Linked DNA regions of Homo sapiens. The protein of the gene in region 2 purifies or fractionates together with the protein of the main gene of each other region. This does not show direct contact. Each region holds a gene or a part of one and is shown on either strand. Other genes may lie near its edges.

Region 1 (3,822 bases), on a different chromosome or scaffold from region 2:
ATGTAAATATAGAAAGGTAGAGTAAATATATGGCATTATAATCTTTTGGGATCACCTTCCTATCTGCAGTCCCTCACTAACCAAAATATCGCTAATGTGGCAATGGCACTCGACTAAAATAATGTACATTCCGGGAAAAATAAAATTGGAACTGCCTAAATTGTCCTCTAATAAGAAAGTAGATGATTGTGGTATATTCACAAAACAGACTACAGAGTAGCTAAGCAGAATTAATTGGCTCACTATATATCCACAGGACTAAATTTCAAAATTATTTTAAGTGAAAAATGCAGGTTGCAGAAAGAAAGATATAGCATAAAACCATTATATACATTTTAAAGACACACAAAGCAATATATTGTTTTTGAGCATAAACATGCATAGATGTAGACAGAAAGAATCTATACCAACTTCAGGACAGTGATTACTTCTGGGAAAGGTCAGTGGTCTCAAGAAGGGATACTGCCAGGTGTGGTGGCTGCCACCTACAACCACAGCTACTCAGGAGGCTGAGGTGGGAGGATCACTTGAGGCCAGGTGTTGAGACTAACCTGAGCAACACAGAGAGATCCTATCTCTAAAAACTTTTTTTTAATTAGCCAGATGTGGTGGCACACCTCTGCTAGTCCAAGCTACTCAGGAAGCTGAAGCAGGAAGATTGCTCGAGCTCAGGAGTGTGAAGCTGCAGTGAGCTATGACTGCGCCACTGCACTCCAGCCCAGGCCACCAAGTGAGACTCAGCCTCTAAAAAAAATTTTTAAATAAAACTAAAAAAAAAAAAAAAAAGGAGCAATACAAAGAAGAGTCAATTGGATCTGTAATGTTCTATTTTTTATTTATTATTATTATTTTTGAGACTGAGTTTCACTCTTGTGGCCCAGGCTGGAGTTGTGATCTCGCTCACCGCAACCTCTGCCTCCCAGGTTCAAGCGATTCTCCTGCCTCAGCCTCTCGAGTAGCTGGGATTACAGGCATGTGCCACCATGCCCGGCTAATTTTGTATTTTTAGTAGAGACGGGGTTTCTCCATGTCAGCCAGGCTGGTCTCGAACTCCCGACCTCAGGTGATCCACCAGCCTCAGCCTCCCAAAGTGCTGGGATTACAAGTGTGAGCCACCATGCCCAGCTGTAATGTTCTATTTTTAAAAAGATAAATATCTGAAGCAGATATCATATGTTAACATTTCTTAAACCTCAGTGGTAATCACATGGATATATGTTATTCACTGTGCTTGTCATGCTTGAAATCTCTTAAAGTGTGCATGAATTATACTCATTCAAAAATACTTAGGGCTTCCAGAAATGGTTACATCTACAAAAGGAATATTTAGTTTTCACTATAAAAAAAAATAAGTTGGAAATTAGTAGTTTAAATCACTAGGAAACTGAAGTCAGTATAAGGTAGCTCTCAGAGCAATATTAAGGATATCAGTACTAAAATACGAAAGAGTATCTCACTGAGAGATTTTCACTTAAAATACCACAGCCAGAGTATAGATGTTTTAAAAAGCATTACAGCAAGTGCTTAGTGTATTGCCCAATGAAGGTATTTGTAAGGGTTCGCTCTTCTGCCACTGCCAAAATTTTCAATGGTAAGATAATATACTTTACCTTATACTTTTGCACCTTAACTTAACTACTTGAAAAAAAGAGTCATCCTATACATAAATTCCTCTGGGTTTCAGAAAGAAGAAGCTATCTAATGATGCTTTAAAGAATTGTTTTGTTTCCTAAAATTCATTGCATTTGAAGATACTTTTAAAAATATCCACTAAAGCGATACACAAAACTAATAACTACTGCATGTAAGACTGCAGAAAGTTGATATACTTTGGACAAACTTTCATTCAGGAAATGGACTACCAAACACTTTATAGTATTTGTTTTGATTTGTAGTACTGCACATGAGCTATCCACAATTTACAGCTTGAGTTCCAAAGTTTCATCTGAAAGTTTGTTTGGTAATGATGTCATTCACCCACAAAATGTTATAAATGACTAGGTTTCTAAACAAAGGCTACAAAAGCTTCTGATATTGATACTGATACTGAATATTCTGGCCTGCCCTAGTCAAAACACTAGATTCGACAAATTTTACCTCTAACATCTTTCCATACCCCTTTCAACTCCTAAGCAAGTTCTCTCTCGTTGGTTCCTATTTCACATTATCTTACTCCTATCTCTGCCAAACAGATGACCTCGACTAGGTTTAAGGACTTATGAAGAAAGAGATCCACTGGCTTTATTTGCACTAAAGTATGTGTATTTTCAGAAAGGGACTGCTGAATCTCCAGTAAGTGAGATTTCTGGCAATTTTAAAAGATAAGCATACAAAACAGTTCAGGCACTGTGGAAAACTTTTCTTTTTTCTTTTCCAGTAGTGGGAAGGTAGTGGTATCTTCTGATGACCTAGAAACTGTACACTGAATAACATCACACATTTTATTCTTCAGCCAATTTCCCAGATAAACTATATACGGTGCTTCATTGGAAAAAACTTCAATTACATAGTGAATATAAATCCCACTTATAAGATGATGTCAGAATATCAAAAGTAGTAAGAATGCAAAATAAACTGTCCCCCACAAAAAGGAAATATAAAACCCATTAAGAGTATCGCAACAGCCGGGCTCAGTGCCTCACGCCTGTAATCCCAGCACTTTGGTAGGCCAAGGCAGGCAAATCACTTGAGGTCAGGAGTTCGAGACCAGCCTGGCCAACATAGCAAAACCCTGTCTCTACTAAAAATAGAAAAATTAGCTGGGTGTGGTAGCACAGGCCTGTAATCCCAGCTACTAGGGATGCTGAGGCAGGAGAATTGCTTGAACCCAGTGAGTGGAGGTTGCAGTGAGCCAAGATCGCGCCACTGCACTACAGCCTGGGCAACAGAACAAGACTCTGTCTCAAAAAAAAAAAAAAAAAAAAAAAAAAAAGAGTATTGCAACAACAACAAAAACATTTGATAAAATTCAACATCCCTTCATGATTAAAAAAACTCTCAACAAATTAGGCATAGAAGGAATATATCTCAAAATAATAAAGTCTATACACAACAAACCCAGAGCTAACATCATACTGAATGAGGAGAGGTGAGATCTTTCTTCTAAAAGCTGGAATGAGGCAGGGATGCCCATTTTCACCACTCCTATTCACCACAGTACTGGAAATCCTAGCCAGAACAATCAGACAAGAGAAAGAAATGAAAGGCATCCAAACTGGACAAGAGAAAGTCAAATTGTCTCTTTGCTGATTATATATCTGTAGGTTTAGAAAACCTTTAAATCAGTAGCATTTCTATACATCAATAAGGATCTAGCCAAGAAAGAAATTAAGAAGGCAATCCCATTTACAATAGCTACCGAAAACAAACAAAAACCTAGGAATACATTTAACTAAGGAGGTGAAAGATCTCTACAAAGAAAACTACAAAACACCAATGAAAGAAAATAAATCAAAAAACATCCTATGCTTGTGGAAAGAATTAATATCACTAAAATGACCATATTGCCAAAGCAATCTACAGATTCAATGAAATCCCTATCAAAATACCAATGTGATTCATATGGGACCAAAAAAGGAAAAAGAAAAAAGCCCAAACAACCAAACCAAACCTGGGCAAAAAGAACAAAGCTGCAGACATCACATTATCTGACTTCAAAATATATTATAAAGCTATAGTAACCAAAACAGCATGGTATTGGTATAAAAATAGACATGTAGACCAATGGAACAGAATAGAGAATCCAGAAATAAAACCACATAATTATAGACAAATGATCTTCAACAACACTGACAAGAACTCACACTAAGGAAAGGACACTGT
Region 2 (3,592 bases):
CCTGAATACAGCTGTAGCTGAAACCAGTTACCTGTGTGTTCCTAATTACGAGAGCCAATAAATCTCATTCTCCATTCATTCAGCTTAAGGTAGTTTGAGTTGTAGTCTCTACCACTTATGACCAAAGGAGCCCTGATCTATACAGAAATTCCATTTTTCCTCTAAGCATTAAGGAGTCAGGCACAAAAGACTACATATAGTAGAATTTCACTTGTAAGAAATGACCAGGCTTGGCCGGGAGCCGTGGCTCACGCCTGTAATCCCAGCACTTTGGGAGGCCGAGGCGGGCAGATCACCTGAGGTCAGGAGTTCAAGACCAGTCTGGCCAACATGGTGAAACCCCGTCTCTACTAAAAATACAAAAATTAGCTGAGTGTGGTGGCGTGGCACCTGTAATCTCAGCTACTCGTGAGGCTAAGGCAGGAGAATCACTTGAACCCAGGAGGCAGAGGTTGCAGTGAGCCGAGATCATGCCATCGCACTCCAGCCTGGGCAACAAGAGTGAAACTCCATCCAAAAAAAAAAAAAAAAAAACACTACTGAATTGTATAGTTTAAACTAGTGGATCTTAGAGTATGTGAGTTGTAACTACTAAATAAATACATAAAAAAGAAGTTTCATTATAGCCAGTGTAGCTCCCCCAGGGAGTAAATGGGAGCATCTGATCCCTCTCAGTTTCCTTGTGATAGTAATAGAAGTTACCGAAGCAAACACTGCACAATTGGAATGTGCTTTATTTCAGGGAAATATAAAGGGAAATGAATGCTATTATAACTTGGTAGAACAGAAGAAATGGCTACCTAGCTTTGCTTTCCAACTACAAACATAAATGAGGATCTCAGCATTTAAGGTAAAACATGATAAGCACAAAAGGAGAGTTCACTGGGGACTGGACTCCCTCATTTACTCTAGAAATTATGAGAACCAGCAGCAATATTCCTCAAGCATCCATCTCAACATCAAGTTCCTTTGTTTTATTTACCAGATGACCAGGAATCATAGATGAGTTTGGCTGCAACTGTGTCTTCCACTGCCATTCCTAGAATAGACAGAAATTTGGTTCGCCTTTGGTCAAAACAACTTTTCTTGAAACAACCCAGGCCCCATGGCTGGAAGTTTCCTGATACATGTCCATGTTGCCAATGCCTATTGGAATAACAGGGACTGATACCCAGAGATGAGCTCAGGCTTCAATTGTCTGCAAAGGGGCAGAGAATATGATAGTAAGAAACACCCACCAACAAATTGTGCATCTTTCTAAATCTAGCTCAGGGCTGAGCAAATTTTTTTTTTTAATTTTTTTTTTTTTCGAGATGGAGTCTCGCTCTGTTGCCCAGGCTGAAGTGCAGTGGCGCGATTTTGGCTCACTGCAAACTCTGCCTCCCAGGATCAAGTGATTCTCCTGCCTCAGCCTCCTGAGTAGCTGGGATTACAGGTGCATGCCACCATGCCTGGCTAATTTTTTTTTTTTTTGTATTTTTAGTAGAGACAGGGTTTCACCATGTTGACCAGGCTAGTTTCAAACTCCTGACCTCAGGCGATCCGCCCACCTCGGCCTCCCAAAGTGCTGGGCTTACAGGCATGAGCCACCACGCCTGGCCTGAACAAACTTTTCAAAAAGGGTCAGACAGTAAATCCTTTAGGCTTTGTGGGCCACAGGGTCTCTATTACAATTATTCAACTCTGCCTTTAGAGTAGAAAACACAGCCAACAGGTAAACAAAAGAGCCTGGCTGTGGGCTGTGTTCCAGTGAAATTATTGATGGGACTGAAGCTTGAATTTTGTATCATTTTCAGACATCATGAAATATTTTCTCCCCCCATTCATTTGAAAATCTAAAAACCATTTCTAGCTCATAGGCCACACAAAAGCAGGCAGCAGAGCAGGTCTGGCCCCAGGACTGTAGTTTTCTGACGCTTGGTCCAGTTTGAATGCTGCATCCTTTGATATCTCCCCTTTGTCTTGTAATTTTGGTAGATACCTTAACCTCTGCACCCAGCACAGATAATTAGGTGCTTGATACGCATCTGTTAGATGAAACAATGCACCAATAAACTGATCCCCAAAAGTAAGAAAGCAAAAATTGCCAAAAAGGACAGAACAAGTTTCTGCAGCATTTTGGCTCCTTAAGTAAGGGCTGGCTGACCTCTGATCTGCCATGACCTTTGAAGTTTTCAGACAAAACTGGATCCATGTGATGTCTTTGAACCAGGCTCCAGATAAAATTGTATTGCCTTTGTCTTCCAGTGCATGAGAGATTTTAAAGACATTTACCAACCTGCAAGGCATGGATACTTAACCAATGGCATGGGCTCTGGGTGGCCAGAGCGCTCCTGATGCTCTGCCAGGCATTTACTCTTTTGCTGCTTGATCACGAAGTATGGAAGGTCATGAGAGGGGGACAGAGGGCACTCTCGAGGGGCTCAGGATAGCAACTGTTTACCAACCAGTTTGGGAGTATTTCAGTGTTTTAGGTGTATCAGCTCTGTTCCCATGTACTTTATTTATTTATTTTTTGAGATGGAGTCTTGCTCTGTTGCCCAGGCTGGAGTGCACGATGTCAGCTCACTACAACCTCCACCTTCCGGGTTCAAGTGATTCTCCTGCCTCAACCTCCCAAGTAGCTGGGATTGCAGATGTGCACCACCACGCCTGGCTAATTTTTGTATTTTTAGTAGAGATGGAGTTTCACCATGTTGGCCAGGCTGGTCTCAAACTCCTTAGCTCAAGTGATCTGCCCACCTTGGCCTCCCAAAGTGTTGGGATTACAGGCGTGAGCCACCGAGCTCAGCCTGTTCCCATGTACTTCTGTTTCCTTCAATCTCATAGGGTGGAAGAGGACCTGGGGCAAGGGACAGACTGGCCACTGGGAGCCCACCCTTTGTTGGGCTTCTATAAGGTACCCCATACAACTCAGGTGGTAGGGGGCTCCCCATGGAAGCCCTCCTCAAAGCAGCAAGTGGGAGAGTAGGGAAGGAGGGAATGAACAGGGCTTAGGCTATACTTTCCATCTGACTCTTTCAGGTTGGGTCTCTGCCATTTCCCTTAAGGTTCCTGTCTTTTAACATCTTTGTCCCCTGCCCCCTCCACCTCTGAAGGGTACCTTCTGAATTTCATCAAGATCTGCACCGAACTGATTCATTTTATATGCAAATCCCACCTAATCCTCAATGGTAACAGGTGGTGAGGAAACTGAGGCCTACAGAGGTCAGATCACTTGCCTAAGGACACCTGCCTTTGAGTGGCGGGGAAGGGACTCTGACCCAGGACTGCTCAGTTCCAGAGTTCATGGGCTTAGCACTAGGCTAAACCATGTAAATAATTGACCTGAATGATGGAGCACAATGATTCAGCTGCAGAGTCTGGTGACTCATTGCTCTTTCCACCAATGGGTGAACCTGCCTTGTGCGCTAGTTGGATTTGTGCCCAGGGAGCAATGGATCTTACCCAAAGACTTGAACACGGTGGTCTTCTCACAGTGGGCTGGTTTCACTCCCTTAATCACTTCTCCCAGCTCAGCAAAGATCTCGGCCTAGGAAACAAACATACGCTGACCCAGGCATGAAGCTAAAGTCTGTGCAGGGTTGGCTTT

Evidence for each region.
Region 1: the proteins of CRYM (region 2) and NSF purify together in Homo sapiens (affinity purification with mass spectrometry; one large-scale study listed by BioGRID and IntAct). This does not show direct contact.

The regions. Positions count from the first base shown.
Region 1 is NC_000017.11:46,596,899-46,600,720, reverse strand, and holds part of NSF (vesicle-fusing ATPase), read right to left. Parts: intron 1-3,822.
Region 2 is NC_000016.10:21,257,807-21,261,398, forward strand, and holds the end of CRYM (ketimine reductase mu-crystallin), read right to left. Parts: intron 3,533-3,592; coding exon 3,448-3,532; intron 1,040-3,447; coding exon 975-1,039; 3' UTR 715-974; downstream 1-714. UniProt on the Homo sapiens protein: Catalyzes the NAD(P)H-dependent reduction of imine double bonds of a number of cyclic ketimine substrates, including sulfur-containing cyclic ketimines.